2 separate regions of the Homo sapiens genome follow, and region 1 is linked to region 2. Evidence: fine-mapped expression QTL. Tissue or cell type: whole blood. Region 2 holds a variant in brackets; the other region holds the start of a gene. All regions are shown on one strand. Distances are from middle to middle.

The links. PIP is the estimated chance that this variant, and not a neighbour inherited with it, causes the effect.
Region 1: TMC5 starts here. The variant in region 2 is fine-mapped to the expression of TMC5 in whole blood (TOPMed, PIP 0.96).

What each region holds. Positions count from the first base shown.
Region 1 is chr16:19,414,676-19,422,860 of GRCh38, reverse strand. TMC5 (transmembrane channel like 5) reads right to left here and starts at 4,978. Exons shown (of 22, transcript NM_001261841.2): 1 at 4,769-4,978.
Region 2 is chr16:19,393,853-19,402,037 of GRCh38, reverse strand. No RefSeq gene overlaps it. Among named protein-coding and RNA genes, the nearest start is that of TMC5, 20 kb to the left of the region's middle. RefSeq lists an enhancer at 7,609-8,185. The variant A/C (reference allele first, on the strand shown) is at 4,803.

The DNA of each region.
Region 1 (8,185 bases), 21 kb before region 2:
TTCTCCTGCCTCAGCCTCCCAAGCAGCTGGGATTACAGGTGCCCACCACTACGCCCAGCTAATTTTTTTGTAGTTTTATTAGAGATGGGGTTTCACCATGTTGGCCAGGCCTGACCTCATGATCCACCCACCTCGGCCCCCCAAAGTGCTGGGATGACAGGGGTGAGCCACTGGGCCCGGCCTATTTTTAAATTTTTTTTGTAGAGACATTGTTGCACCCAGGCTGATTTCTAATGCCTGGGCTCAAGAGATCCTCCCACCTTGGCCTCCCGAAGTGCTTGGGCTACAACAGACGTGAGCCACCATACCCAGCTGCTTACAATGTTTTGAAAATAAAAAATGTGATTTCCAAATAAAAAAGATAAATTAAGTAAGTACTTAAAAATGCAAACATATGATTATGGAGGTTCTCGAGCAATCCAGGTCCCTAAGTAAACGGAGACACCTGGAAAGTGGTTTGGAAGCAGGGCATTGGAGTTTCCTTTGAAATACAGTATCCTAAATGTCCCTCTTTTCACCCCATTCAGGGAAGCAGAAAAGCAAATTCTTTCTCTCTCTCTTTTCCCCCCCTTTAAATATCTTTGAGTCATAGCAAATTCTGTCTTCTCTCTCTCTCTCTTTTTTTTTTTTGAAATGGAGTCTAGCTCTGTTGCCCGGGCTGGAGTATAGTGGTGTGATCTTGGCTCACTGCAACCTCCACCTCCCAGGTTCAAGCAATTCTCCTGCCTCAGCCTCCTGAGCAGTTGGGACTACAGGCATGTGCCACCATGCCCAGCTAATTTTTTTGTATTTTTAATAGAGACGGGGTTTCACCATGTTGGCCAGGATGGTCTTGATCTCCTGACCTCGTGATCCGCCCACCTCGGCCTTCCAAAGTACTGGGATTACAGGCGTGAGCCACCGCGCCCGGCCCTCTCTCTCTCTTTTTTAAGAGATGGAGTCTCACTCTGTTATCCAGGCCAGAGTGCAGTGATGCAACCTCCTAGGCCCAAGCCATCCTCCTGCCTCAGCCTCCTGAGTAGCTGTGACTATAGGTGTATGCCAACCACACCTGGCTCAAATTTTCTTTTTTCAACTCTGATTTGTTCCACATTCACCTCTTGAATTCTGCTACCTTTTCTCCCATGCTGGGTAAGTATGACATCAAGCTTGGGAAGTTTCTAGATTCAATGCTGTTTGCAGCAGGGCCAGGACTAGGGTGAGGGAGTAAGATAAGTGCTGAGCTGAGGTGCAAATTTAAAGGGGGCCAAAAATCCCAGTAATCAAGTGTATCGTCCATTTTCATACCTGAGACTAGGTAATTTATAAAGAAAAAGAGGTTTAATGGACTCACAGTTCCACATGGCTGGGGAGGTCTCACAATCATGGCAGAAGGCAAAGGAGGAGCAAAGGCACATCTTACATGGCGGCAGGCAAGAGCGTGTGTGCAGGGGAACTGCCCTTTATAAAACCGTCAGATCTCGTGTTCCCATGAGAACAGCATGGGAAAAACCCACCCCTATGACTCAATTACCTCCCACAGCGTCCCTCTCATGACATGTGGGGATTATGGGAGCTATAATTCAAGATGAGATTTGGGTGGGGACACACCATATCATCAAAATAAATAATATTTTAACATGATACTTTTAAAAATAAAAATAAGTGCAAAAAACCCATGATGAAAAAAAAATCAACATGTTCAAAACAGACAGGATCACAATTACTGCTTTGTGCTTTTGGCTCCAGCTCTGATCTTTCTCAGTGCCACACTGACTGACAGACACAACCTTGCGATCCAGGTGTCCATGAGTCTCATACTGCCAGGTCCTGTTATCTCACCTCAGGAATGACAATTCTTGGGGTGACCTAAACCATTTTCTTGGAGATCTCCACTCACCTCCTCTCATTTTAAGTCCTTTCCTCTGATCGTGTAATTTATAACTCAAGTCTCTGACACAGGATAAAATTCCATTTCTCCTTTGGAAAGCCACTATTTTGCTTTGGATGTGGGTGCTAACACATCAAAGGCTGGGAACTGTAACTATGGGCTTCCAATTCTTCTGGTGAATTCTAAACACAGGACTGTCTTTTTTTCTTTTAAATTATACCTATGTTCAGACAGGCGAGATGGCTCAATCCTGTAATCCTGGGGCTTTGGGAGGCTGAGGCAGGAGGATTGCTTGAAACCAGGAGTTGGAGACCAGCTTAGGTGACATAGCAAGACCCTGGCTCTACAAAAAATTTTAAAAATTAGCTGAGCACAGTGGCATGCAGCCGTTAGTCCCAGCTACCCAGGAGGCTGAGCCTGGATGATGACTTGAAACAAGGGAGTTGAGGCTGCAGTGCACTATGATCATGCCACTGCACTCCAGCCTGGGGGACAGAGTGAAACTCTGTCTCTACAGAAAATTTTAAAATTAGTTGATTTTTAATTTTTTTTATTTTTTTTTTTGAGACGGAGTCTTGCTCTGTTGCCAGGCTGGAGTGCAGTGGCATGATCTCAGCTCACTGCAACCTCCGCCACGTGGGTTCCAGTGATTCCCTTGCTTCAGCCTCTCCAGTAGCTGAGACTACAGGTGTGTGCCACCATGCCTGGCTAATTTTTTTTTGTGTTTTAGTAGAGACAGGGTTTCACCATGTTGGCCAGGATGGTCTTGATCTCCTAATCTCGTGATCTGCCCTCCTTGGCCTCCCAAAGTGCTGGGATTACAGACGTGACCCACCACACCTGGCCTAAAATTAGTTGATTTTTAATCATTAATGGTGGTGCACGCCTGTAGTCCCAGCTACTTAGGAGGCTAAGGCAGGAGGATCACTCAAGCCCAGAAGTTCAAGGCTGCAATGAGCTATGATCACACCACTACACTCCCTATAAATATTCCTTTCCCTATGAATGCCTTCGCAGAAATGACCATAACTGATGATTAGCATTCTAGCTGCTGTGATTTATCTCTGGGAATGATGAACGTTGGGTGACTAGAAATAACCTGAGCAATAATAGCGTCACCTCCTGCCACGTCATCCCGAAAAATCTTGGCAAATATGATTCATTGCGTTATTCATTAAGTGTTTATGAAGATACTCTATAGCTTGAACTTGACCCTGTCTTCTGGGGACAGGACCTTTTCTGGCAAAGTATGACAATAAACCCTACTTTTAACATTAGTGGCCCGGCGCGGTGGCTCACGCCTGTAATCCCAGCACTTTGGGAGGCCGAGGCGGATGGATCACGAGGTCAGGAGATTCAGACCATCCTGGCTAACACGGTGAAACCCCGTCTCTCCTAAAAATACAAAAAATTAGCCGGGCATGGTGGCAGGCGCCCGTAGTCCCAGCTACTCCGGAGGCTGAGGCAGGAGAATGGCGTGAACCTGGGAGGCGGAGCTTGCAATGCGCCGAGATCGCACCACTGCACTCCAGCCTGAGCGACAGAGCAAGACACTGTCTCAAAAAAAAAAAAAAAAAAAAAAAAAAAACCAACACATTCATTTCCACTGAGCTTCTTTTCCCCTCTCTAGTGTAGAAAGAATCTAGTCAAACAATAACAATAATAATAAGTTAATAATAATAACAACAACAGTAATAAGCATGAAGACAGCACTATTTATTGAGTGCTGACATGCATGCCAGGCACAGGGCTATGCCCTTCACATGTATCAGCAACTGAATGCTCAAACAACTTTATGGGGAGGTATTATTATCCCCATTTTATGATTACATTGAGACCCAGAGAGGTTAAGTAACTCACTCAAGGTCACACAGCTAAACAGAGGCAGAATGGGATTCAAACCCATACCTCTCTGATTGCATACGCTGGGCTTGGATCATCATCATCAACAACATCATTGTTGGCAGTGCATGGTGGCTCATGCCTGTAATGCCAGCACTTTGGCAGGCTGAGGCAGAAGGATCGCTTGAGCTTAGGAGTTTGAGACCATCCTAGGCAATATAGTCAGACCTTGTCTCTACTAAAAATCATAAAAGGTAGGCGGGCATGGTGGCATGTGCCTATAGTCTCAGCTACTCAGAAGGCTGAAGCAGGAGGATTGCTTGAGCCCAGGAGATCAAGGCTGCAGTGAGCTATGATTTCACCACTGTACTCCAGCCTGGGCAACAGAGTGAGATATTGTCTCGAAAAAAAAAAAAAAAAACACAAAAATCACTTATCAGAGGAAGAAGAGAAGGATGAGAAAAATGAGAAGGATGAGAAGAATGAGAAAAATGAGAAGTTATTGTTTCTTGAACACCATAAAGAAGTAAATAGATTTTTTTTTAAATCTCAGAAAATGAAATACCATTGGGAGAGACCACCTGAATTCACTCATCCAACAAAGCATTCTTCTAGAACATGATGCTCCAGGAGACACCCCCAGACATAGAGGTCACATTTATTGCGTGTTTGTCGTGCACCGTATTTTATTAGCTCTGATATCCACCTGTGGAAGTGGGAGCTTTTGGCATACTACCCATTCTACAGACAAGGAAACCAAGGCCAGAAACATACAATAACTGACCCAGAATCCCACAGTTAGACCTGGGGAAGCCCAGATTCCAACTCAAGCAGATAACCCTAGGGCTTGTTCTCATAATCAACACTCTCTTGCCTCCCATTTCCCCTGGTCATTCTTTCCTCTAACAAACATCTGTTGTGCCTCAATTCTGTACCCTCGTCTGGCAATAAGCAATACGACAGCCTCAGTTTCCGTCCTCCTTCGCTGACACGTTCCCAAGCATTCCGCATTATTCCCATGACCTCCCACCCCTCCTTCAAAGCACTTTCACTTACCTGCCCTCAGTTCTACAGGAAAATCCAGACAAACTTCCCCTCCACTTTGTAGTTCAAAGCTAGAGGGACAGGCAACAGGTCCTCTTTTTTTCTTAACTAACCGGTAAGGCCCATCTTTTTCTGCCTCTCTGCCGTGTCGCCTTAAAGACTGCTCCTTGCTATCTTGGTCACACGTCTGGGCGGGAAGCCACGAAGATCACGGGAAGGGGGTTGTTTACTGAGCTCATTGCCGTTTTATGCCGCCCTGGCTATCATCTCTTTCCTCATCAACCAATGAGTAACCAGGTCTCACCTGGTGAAAATGCAAATCAGTCTTCCACCTCTACCATCACAGCTGCACCTATGGCCTCTGTCTACTGAGTCCGCGACGATGAAGGCCTAACTCAGGTCCCAAGTTGTGCATTTCCTTCTTCCTAAGCCCTAACTCCTCCCTCTCATTAATATTCTTTTGTTATCAGCTCAATGAAAATATCAAAGTCCTTTCTAGAGGTTATTTTATTTCTTGGACACCATAAGGAAGTAAATAGATTCGTTTTGTGTTTTTTTTTTAACCCTAGAGTGTGAGGTGGTGTGGGAAGAGACTACCTGAATTCATTAATCCAACAAAGAATGGAACGTGATGCTCCACTAGACACCCCCGGGCACTGGCTCCTTTTTTTTTTTTTTTTTTTTTTGAGACAGCGTTGCCCTCTGTCACCTCGGCTGGAGTGCAGTGCCACAATCTCAGCTCACTGCAACCTCCGCCTCCTGGACTCAAGGGATCCTCCTGCCTCAGCCTCCCAAGCAGCTGGGACCACAGGTGCAAGCCATCATGCCTGACTAATTTTTGTATTTTTTGAAGAGCTGGGGTTCTGTCGTGTTGCCCAGGCTGGTCTTGAACTCCTGAGCTCAAGTGATCCACCCATCTCGGTCTCCAAAACTGCTGAGATTACAGGCGTAAGCCACTGCACCTGGCCTGGACACGTTTTTCTTTTCTTCTTTTTTTTTTTTTTTTTTTTGAAGACTGAGTCTTGCTCTGTCGCCCAGGCTGGAGTGCAATGGCGCCATCTGGGCTCACTGCAACCTCCGCCTCCCAGGTTCAAGTGATTCTCCTGCCTCAGCCTCCCGAGTAGCTGGGATTACAGGTGTCTGCCACTACACCTGGCTAATTTTTGTATTTTTAGTAGAGATGGGGTTTCACCATGTTGGCCAGGCTGGTCTTGAACTCCTGACCTCAGGTAATCCACCTGTCTCGGCCTGCCAAAATGCTGGGATTACAGGCATGAGCCACTGCATCTGGCCGCCTGGCCACATTTTTCTATAGATACATCCCCTTTGGCAACATGCGGACCATACAGGTTTAACTCTGTAGTTATGATCACCAATGGCATGTCCCTTCTGGAAACAAAGGACAGGCAGTATAAAACCAGCCCACATTTCAAGACAGTTGACTCGAATTCAAATGCTGACTCTGGCACTCTAAGACTGTAATGTCTCAACTCCTCTGAGCCTCAATTTCCTCCCCATTAACCTACAAAGTGGGAACTATATACACTCCCTCCTCCTAGTGTTGATAAGGGCTACATCAGTTAACATTTGAGAAAGTTTGGACTAAGATTATTTCTAGCCACCTAAGACTCACATTCCCAGGGATAAACCCCAGCAGATGGGATGCTAATCCATCACAAAGGGTTTTCTCTGAGAAGGAGATTTTATATTCATACAGAAATAAAGAAGGAGGTAGACAATTGAGGGCTGGATCAAATTTCTGTATTTTTACAAATACCAGAACAAACAAAATCTGTTTCCTATGGCATTTGCATTTGGGGGAGTATCATTTAAAAGAAAAAAAGAATGTCCTAGTTCTATAATTCACAGAAAGTATTGGGGTCTATAGTTACCGTTCCTCTTTTTTTTTTTTTTCCTTTGAGACAGGCTCTTGCTTTGTCAACCAAGGCTGGAATGCAGTGGTGCAATCATAGCTCACTGCAGCCTCTGACTGTTGGGCTCAAGCAATCCTCCTGCCTCACTCAGCCTCCCAAGGAGGTGAGACTACAGGTATGTACCACCACATTTGGCTAACATTTTAAATTTTTATAGATATGGGGTCTCTCTACGTTGCCCAGGCTTGTCTCAAACTACTGGGCTCAAGTGATCATCCCACCTTGGCTTCCCAAGGTGTTGGGATTACAGGCATGAGCCACTGCACCCAGCCCCAATCTTTGATGTATTAGCACTAAATGCAAAACAGTGGCTTTCCAATGGAGAAATGGAATTTTCTCCTGTGGAAGAGACCTGAGTTATAAATTGTATGATCAGAGGAAATGAGAGGAGGAGGGTGGTGGTTTCCAAGAAGACAGTTTGGTTTGCCCCAAGAGCTGTCATTACTGGGGTGAAAGGGCAGTACCTGGCAGCATTTGACTCTAGGAACACCTGGATCGTGCGGTTCTGCCTGCCAATCATTGTGGAGCTGCGCCAAACGAGCTCCTGGCAAGAAGTCAAAGCAGTGATTTTGATTCTTTTGTAGCTATAAGTCAGGATTTCTCAACCTTGGCAGTACTGTCATTTGGGGCCAGACAACTGCCTGTTGTGGGGAGCTGGGGGGACTGCTCTGTGCATTGTAGGGTGTTTAGCAGTATGTCCGGCTTCTATCTATTAGATACCAGGAGGACACCCCAACCCCACCCCATCTGCAAGCTACGACAACCAAAAATGTCTTCAGGAATGGGCAAATATCCCCTGGGAGGCAAAACTGCCTCCCCCTGAGAACCACTGCTCTAAATGTTACCTAGTTCCATGGACAGTGTCTCCTCGCTCTCCATTGCGTGGGACAAGGAAATCAGCAACTCAACATTTTCTCTAATAGAGTTTTCTCCCCTCTGTTTCTCCTCTTCTAGAAACTATACCATATTTTTACATATTTCGGTTTATGACACATATATGCCCTATAAACTGTAATTATACGTTTCTTGTCTGCAGGTAGACAATAAGTTGGCAATACTGGTTGCTTCCAGAGTGAGAAACTGGGTGGCTGGAGATAGATATGGAGGGAGATACTTTTCAGTATTTGCTTAGATATCCTTTGGATTTTTTCCATTTTTCTTTTTTAGAGATAGAGCCTTGCTTTGTCACCCAGGCTGGGCTCAAACGATCCTCTTGCCTAAGCCTCAGCCTCCTGAGCAGCTGGGACTACAGGAACTCACCACTATGCCCACCTAGTTTCTCTTTTTTGTCAAGATGGGGTCTCCCTATGTTGCCTAGGCTGGTCTCGAACTCCTGGCCTCAAGCGATCCTCCTGCCTCAGCTTCCCAAGGCTCTGGGACTACAGGAACTCACCACTATGCCCACCTAATTTCTCTTTTTTGTCGAGATCGGGGGGTGGTCTCCCTATGTTGCCTAGGCTGGTCTCGAACTCCTGATCTCAAGCGATCCTCCCGC
Region 2 (8,185 bases):
TTATGCCCTGGGAGCATAACCACTCAGCGGCATTCCACAGGTTGGTCAGGGAGATTACACTCCCTTGAAGCAATGGAGTATAATCAAACATCTTGGCTCCTCCTGAAACCCACTTCCACCTGTTTCAGTCCTGGTAAGTTAAAGATCTTAAGTAGTTTAGACACACATCTTTGCTCAAGGAAATTCACAGAAACCACCACTGCTACACATCTTATCGAATGACTCACGAGTTCTCCTTCACTGATTAATCCTGTTCCTCATCCCTTCCTCCCCCTCCCATCTGCCCTAAGAACAAAGAGCTTGTAAGCCAATAAATTGCGTGAAGCCCAAGAGCTCTGGGCCGTGAGCAAGCCTCTGATGCTCTGGTCCCCTGAACCCGCCTTTTAAATGCTTATTCTGTCTCTTTCTAACTCCTTTGTGTCTGTCAGACTTGGGGTACCCACTGGGTGGTGTGGGGCTGGTTTCCCCAACATCTGGCACCCAACGTGGGGCTCCCCATAATCTCTACAAATAATCCAGTGAAGAAACGCCAGAGCGTGGAAAGTGGAGGACGACTGACAAAGGTTGCCCGAGTACGTTTTCACTTCAGGCTCTACGGGTAAGTAGGGTGCTCGGAGAATTCCAGGGTAACCTCAGGAAAATATGGGTCAGGCTGAAAGTAAGTTTGCAAATTACTTAAGCCTGGTGCAGCAGTTATTGTGCCACAGCGGGGTAATTGTGAGTACCCAAAATCTCACATCTTTGTTCCATCTCATAGAAAAGTATTCTCCTTTGTTCCCAGGATATGGAACCATGAATGTAAAAGATTGGGACAAGGTCGGATCAGACTTACAAGGAGCAAAACAAGAGGGTTACGATATTTCCTTCTCCACTTGGTCTGTGTGGCCAGCAATTAAAACAGCACTGGAGCCCTTCTACACTGAGGAGGAGGAGTTTCAGGATGACATACAAAAGTTTAATAATCATGAGTCTGATGATCAGCAAAGTGAACCATCACAGTCTAGTTTAAAAAAGGGGGAGAAACAGGAAGCTACATGGGCTAACCTCCAAAAACTTATGAAAGAAACAGTTCCACCTACTGAAGAAACAGTGCCACCTACTGCGCCTTTAGGGGAAGGTCCGGAACGGCCACCCCTGCCTCAGCCTTATGAATTTTTGTAACGAGAGCCTGAGACGCAGCTTGCCACTCCCATTGTTGCACGCCCCACCATTAACTATGGCAAAGGGAAGCTTCAGTCTTGCCCAACAGCCAATTACAGTGAGGGAATGATCCAGGTTGGTCCACCTGTTAATTATGGTAGAGGAATGCTGTGAACCGGCCCAAATACATATTATGGCGCAGGGATAATCCAGGCATCCATTTGCCAGGCATGAGAAATGGGGGATTTGGATGCTTGGCAGTTTCTGGTAATTATTTCGCCAGCTGAGGAGCCTGGAGAACATGCTCAAGCGTGCTGGGAGCCATTTCCTTTTAAAATATTAAAAGACTTAAAGCAAGCAGTTGGACAATATGGGCCAAATTCTCCTTATGTTCATTCCTTGTTACAATCTGTGGCGTATAACCAGCATTTAATACCTATGGATTGGGAGACATTAGCCTGATCCACCCTGCCCCCTCTCAATTTCTCCAATTTAAAACCTGGTGGATGGATGAAGCAATAAATCAGGCATGCAGAAATGCTCAAGCCCAAACTTTCATTAATATCACATCTGATCAATTGCTTGGAAGTGGACAGGCATGGGGTACTCTAAATCAACAGATGGTAATGGGTGATGAGGCTGTTGATCAGCTCAGAACTATATGCCTAAGAGCCTGGGAAAAAATTCACTACCCTGGTACTACTTATCCTTCTTTTAACTCAGTTTGACAGGGTCGAAGGGAGCCTTATCCAGATTTTATCATTCATTTGCAAGATGTGGCTCAAAAGGCTATTTTGGATTCTCATGCCAGGAAAGTGATCGTCCAGCTACTTGCTTATGAAAATGTTAATACAGAATGTCAGGCAGCAATTAGACCTATTAAGGGAAAGGCAGATCTAAATGAGGAAAAAACTTTAAGAGTATACATTAAAGCCTGTGATGGCATTGGCAGGCACTTATATAAGGCCAGCCTCCTTGCTCAAGGAATGGCTGGACTAAGGGTAACAAAAAACATATGAGTGTGCCCTGGATCTTGCTATAATTGTGGACAGATAGGACATACAAAAAGAGAGTGTACAAAGAGCCAAAAAAGGCAAAACTCAGGAGGAAAAAGCAGGGAACCAAGTACCTTTCCTAGAAGTAAAAAAGGAAAAGACTGTGCTAATCAATGTCATTCAAAGTTTGATGACAGCAGACAGACAGAACTTGCCAGGAAACGGACAGAAGGGCCAGCCCTGGGCCCCGATTCAAAATGGGGCATTCCCAATTCAGGATGGGATGTCCCCAACTCCAAACGGAGTGTCCTCAGCCCAGTCTATCCCTGTATGAATGTACAGGAATTGTCCCCCTCCACAGCTAAAAGTGGGGCAGTAGATTTATGCTGTACCGAAGCCATATCCCTCCTTCCTGGGGAGCCTCCTAGGAAGGTCCCAGTGGAAGTTTATGGCCCATTGTGAAATGGCACGGTGGGACTTATACTGGGAAGGTCCAGCTTAAACTTAAAGGGAATTCAAGTACATACTGGAGTAGTGGACTCTGATTGCCAGGGAGAAATTCAAATTGTTATCTCCTCCACTGTTCCCTGGAGTGCTAATCAAGGTGACAGAATAGCTCAACTGTTGCTTTTACCATATGTTAAGTTAGGAGAAAGCTCAGAAAAAAGAACAGGAGGATTTGGAACACAAATTCAGCAGGCAATGCTACCTATTGGGTACATCAAGTCTCTGACAATAGACCTATTTGTATGGTTACTATTCAAGGAAAACAATTTGAGGGTCTGGTGGACACAGAAGCAGACGTGTCGATCATAGCTCTTTATCAATGGCCAAAAAACTGGCCCAAACAAAAGGCCCCAGTAGGTCTTGTTGGGGTCAGAATTGCTTCAGAAGTTTTCCAAAGTACTTTTATCTTACCATGTCTTGGTCCAGAAGAACAGGAAGGCACACTACAACCTCTAATTATGCCCATTCTTGATAACTTATGGGGGAGAGATCTGCTTCAGCAATGGGGCACAGAAATTTCAATCCCTTCTCCCCAGTTTGGTCAAGCTAGTCAAAAAATAATGTCAAACATGGGCTATGTTCCCAGAAAAGGCCTAGGAAGACAGGGGGCTGGCATTATTGAACCCATACAAGTTACTGTAAAAAATGACTGAAAAGGATTAGGTTACCATTTTTAGGGCTGGTCACTGTTGAGTCTCCAAGTTCTATTCCCTTAAAATGGAAGACCCAAAATCCTGTTTGGGTTGAGCAGGGGCCACTTTCTCAGGAAAAATTGGGGGCCTTACAGGAATTAGTCAAAGAGCAATTAAACAAAGGAAACATTGAGCCCACATTTCCTCCATGGAATTCGCTAGTGTTTGTAATAAAGAAAAAATCCAGCAGATGGTTCATGCTAACCGACTTACGAGCGGTCAATGCAGTCATCCAGCTGATGGGGGCCCTGCAGCCAGGGCTTCCATCGCCCACCATGATTCCTAGAGACTGGCCATTAATAATTATAGATTTGAAGGATTGCTTTTTTAATATTCCTCTAGCAGAGTCCAATTTTGAGAAATTTACTTTTACTATTCCTGCTATGAACAACAAGGAACCAGCAGCCAGATATCATTGGAAAGTCTTGCCGCAGGGTAGGTTGAATAGTCCTACTATTTGTCAAACTTTTGCGGGGAAGGATGTTCAACCTGTGAGAGATCAGTTTCCCGATTCATATGTCATTCATTATATGGATGACATATTGTGTGCGGCTGAAAATCGAGACCAACTTATCCAGTGTTATTCATATTTACAGGAGGTGCTAGCCAATGCTGGATTGCTCATAGCACCAGATAAAATTCAAACGGCCACTCCTTTCCAATATTTGGAAATGCAGGTTCAGGAAAGGGCAATTAAACCCCAAAAGGTTCAAATTCGAAAAGACTCTCTGAAAACTAAATGATTTTCAAAAATTATTAGGGGATATCAGTTGAATTTGACCTACTTTGGGAATCCCTACCATGTTATGTCTAATCTGTTCTCTATTTTAAGAGGAGACCCTGCTCTCAATAGTAAATGATAACTGACTCCTGAGGCTGACAAAGAATTACAAATAATTGAAGAAAAAATACAACAGGCCCAGGTTAATAGAATAGAGTCAAGTTTACCATTACAGTTCATTGTGTTCCCTACTCTCCATTCTCCTACAGGGGTTATAGCTCAGAGTGAGGACTTAGTTGAATGGTCTTTTCTGCCTCACAATACTGTTAGAACACTCACAGTATACTTGGATCAGATGGCAATCTTGATTGAGCAAGCTTGCCTTAGAGTTGTTAAACTTTGTGGCTCAGATCCAGATAAGATTATAATTCCAATGAATAAAATCAGATTTGGCAAGCCTTTGTTAATTCGGTCAATTGGCAAATAAATTTAGCTGGCTTCATTGGAGTTCTTGACAATCATTATCCAAAAAACAAAATTTTTCAGTTTTTAAAGCTAACATGGGTCCTTCCAAAAATTACCCGTAGTGCTCCATTGGAAGGAGCAGTGACTGTGTTTACAGATGGCTCTAGTAATGGAAAAGCAGCTTACGTACGACCTAAAAACACAATTATTCAAACTGACTTTCAATCGGCACAGAAGGCTGAATTACAGGCAGTTATAGGTGTGTTCGAAAACTTTAAGCAA[A/C]CTGTAAATATTGTCTTTGATTCAGCTTATGTTGTTCAAGCCACTCAACACATAGAAACTGCACTCATTAAATATCTGGTGGATGAACAACTCTATCAGCTGTTTTCTTCTTTACAAAAGGCAGTGCATGATCACCGTTTTCCTTTCTATATTACACACATTTGAGCACACACTAATCTTCCTGGGCCCCTTGTAAGGGCTAATGATCAAGCTGATTTATTAATTTCCACTGTGCTTACTAATGTCCAAGATTTTCACTCCCTAACACGTTAATGCAGCAGGACTTAAACAAAAATAACAAATTACTTGGAGACAGGCAAAGGGCATTGTGCAACATTGCCCTCAGTGCCAGGTAGTACAACTGCCACGTGAAAGGACTGGTGTTAACCCACAGGGATTAACCCCCAATATGTTGTTGCAAAAGGACCTAACCCATGTACCTTTGTTCGGGAAACTTTCATACGTCCATGTTACTATAGATACCTTTTCTCATTTTGTATGGGCAACTTGCCAAACAGGCGAGGCGGCTGCTCATATTAAGACATTACTTCCCTGTTTCGCTGCCATGGGCATCCCACAAAAGATTAAAACAAACAATGGCCCAGGCTACTGTAGTAAATCTTTACAGGCGTTCCTTTAACAGTGGAACATCGAGCACAGTACTGGAATACCCTATAATTCTCAAGGTCAAGCCACTGTTGAACAGGCTAATCGAACCTTAAAATCTCAATTACAAAAACAAAAGACAGAGGGGGAAACCAGAGAATACGCTACTCCTTATATGCAGCTACAATTGGCTCTTATCACTTCACATTTTCTGAATTTGTCTAGAGATCACGTTACAATGGCAGCAGAGCAGCATTTGACAAGGCAAAAAATAAATGCTTATGAAGGAAAACATGTGTGGTGGAAGGACATCAGAACCAAAACCTGGGAAAAGGGCAAAATCATTACATGGGGTCAAGGGTTTTCTTGTATCTCACCAGAAGAGAATCAGCTTCCTGTCTGGGTGCCCACAAGACATCTTAAGCTGTGCCATGAGCCAGAATCCAAGGAAGAGGAAAAGACCTCGGAACATCCCTGCACCCCCAGTTCATCAGATGGCTCAGATGAACATCTCTGTTGAGCAGATGGAAACCAGTAAAACTCGCCAAGCAACTCCACTGACCTGGGGGCAGGTGAAGAGCCTAGCTCACATTGCAGAAGAGAACCTGAGGTCTCTGAACAAGCTGCTGACCACCAGTAATCTAATGGTAGCTATGATGGTGGTAATCTCCCTGCAGTGAGTCTCCCCATAGCTGAGGCAGATCAAAATTACACTTACTGGGCCTACATTCCATTCCCACCACTGATTAGGCCTGTTACATGGTTAGACCCCATGTTAATGATAGTATCTGGATGCCTGGACCAATAGATAACCGAGGCCCTACTCATCCAGAGGAGGAAGGAATGTTAATGAATGTTTCCATTGGTTATCACTTTCCTTCCATCTGCCTGGGGCCGGCAGCAGGATGTTTAAATTATGATAAACAAAGTTGGATGACTTGTGTCCCTGCAAATAATGGATCAAAAGCCCCTATTCATGCAATCAGTGGAAGAACATTTCAATCTTTGGACACTATTAAATACCTTGAGCACGGCTATGTTATGACACATCGCCAGATTAATAAATATAAACCTAATAAGAAGCCCTGCCCTAGGAAGGCCACTAAATGGTCTGGAAAGCTAGAGGTGCTAACCTGGGAAGATTGTATTGCAAACAGCACTGCTGTACTGCAAAGTAATTCCTATGGAATCGTCATTGATTGGGCCCCTATGGGACGCTTTGCAGTAAATTGTACTGGACAGTGCGAAGATGGTAGAGAGACTCCTTTTGCAAACAACTACCCAGATAATGCACCAAAATTATATAGAAGAATTAAAACAAATTAACCTATTAAGTGGGAGGAGAACGGTATGGCTCTTTCAAGCCCAAAAATGATTGATCCAATTATAAGTCCAGAACATCTAGAATTGTGGAAATTAATGATGGCTCAAACCCCAATTCGGATTTGGAAAGGAGAATATAAAACAAAGACCCTTAGTAAAAAAAACTTTGATTTGTCGTAGCCATGACCTCTAATCAGACATTCCCATTGCAGAGTTTTGTTAAACCTCCTTTTATGTTGGCAGTGGGAAAAATTAATATCCTAACTGACTCTCAAACCATATCATGCCTCAACTGTCATCTTTTTACCTGCATTAATTCTACCTTTAATAAAGATAATAGCATTTTACCGGTTAGGGCCCAAGGAGTTTGAATAACTGTTTCCCTCAATAGACCTTGGGAGGCCTCTCCCTCCATACATATTATCACGGAAGTACTAAAAGGAATACTTAATAGATCAAAGAGATTCATATTTACTTTAATAGCTGTGATCATGGGCCTTATAGCTGTCACAGCTACTGCTGCTGCTGCTGGTGTTGCTTTGCACTCTTCTATTCAAACAGCGGGCTTTGTGGATAGTTGGCAGAAAAATTCTTCTAAGCTTTGGAATTCCCAAAGCCAAATAGGTCAAAAATTGGCAAATCAAATTAATGATCTCTGTCAAACAGTAATTTGGATGGGAGATTGGATTATGAGCTTGGAGCATAGAATTCAAAAACAATGTGACTGGAATACTTCCGATTTTTGTTTTACTCCTAGCTCTTATAATGCCATTGAACACCAGTGAGAGACGATTAGACGTCACCTACAAGGAAAAAAAGATAATTTAACATTAGATATTGCTAAACTGAAAAAACAAGTTTTTGAGGCATCTCAGGCTCATCTCACCCTATTGCCTGGAGCTGATATTCTTGCTGGAGCCTCTGATGGCCTTTCTAATACCAATCCTTTAAAGTGGATTGAAACCATAGGTGGATCAACAATTGCAAATTTTATTTTGGTTTGTGTCTGTTTATGTTGCTTGTTTTTAGTCTACAGATGCAGATGGTGCCTTGGGAGAGAAACCAGACACCATGAATGAGCCATAATAGCAATGGCAGTTATTAATAAAAAAAAATCAATAGAGGCAAAAAAGGGGAACATGTGGGAAAGTGTTTCTGGGGTGCCAGTTGAGTTGGTCTCCCCTGTGTGAGACACCCATGGGAAGCCATGGGCAGCCTCTGGGGAGAAAAGTCTCCTTATTGCTTTCATGTCTTTATGCCCCAAGAGCATAACCACTCAGCAGCATTCCACAGGTTGCTCAGGGAGACAACACTCCCTTGAAGCAGTGGAGTATAATCAAACATCTTGGCTCCTCCTTAAACCCGCTCCCACCCATTTCAGTCCTGATAAGCTAAAGATCTTAAGTAGTTTAGACACACGCCTTTGCTCAAGGAAATTCACAGAAACCGCCACT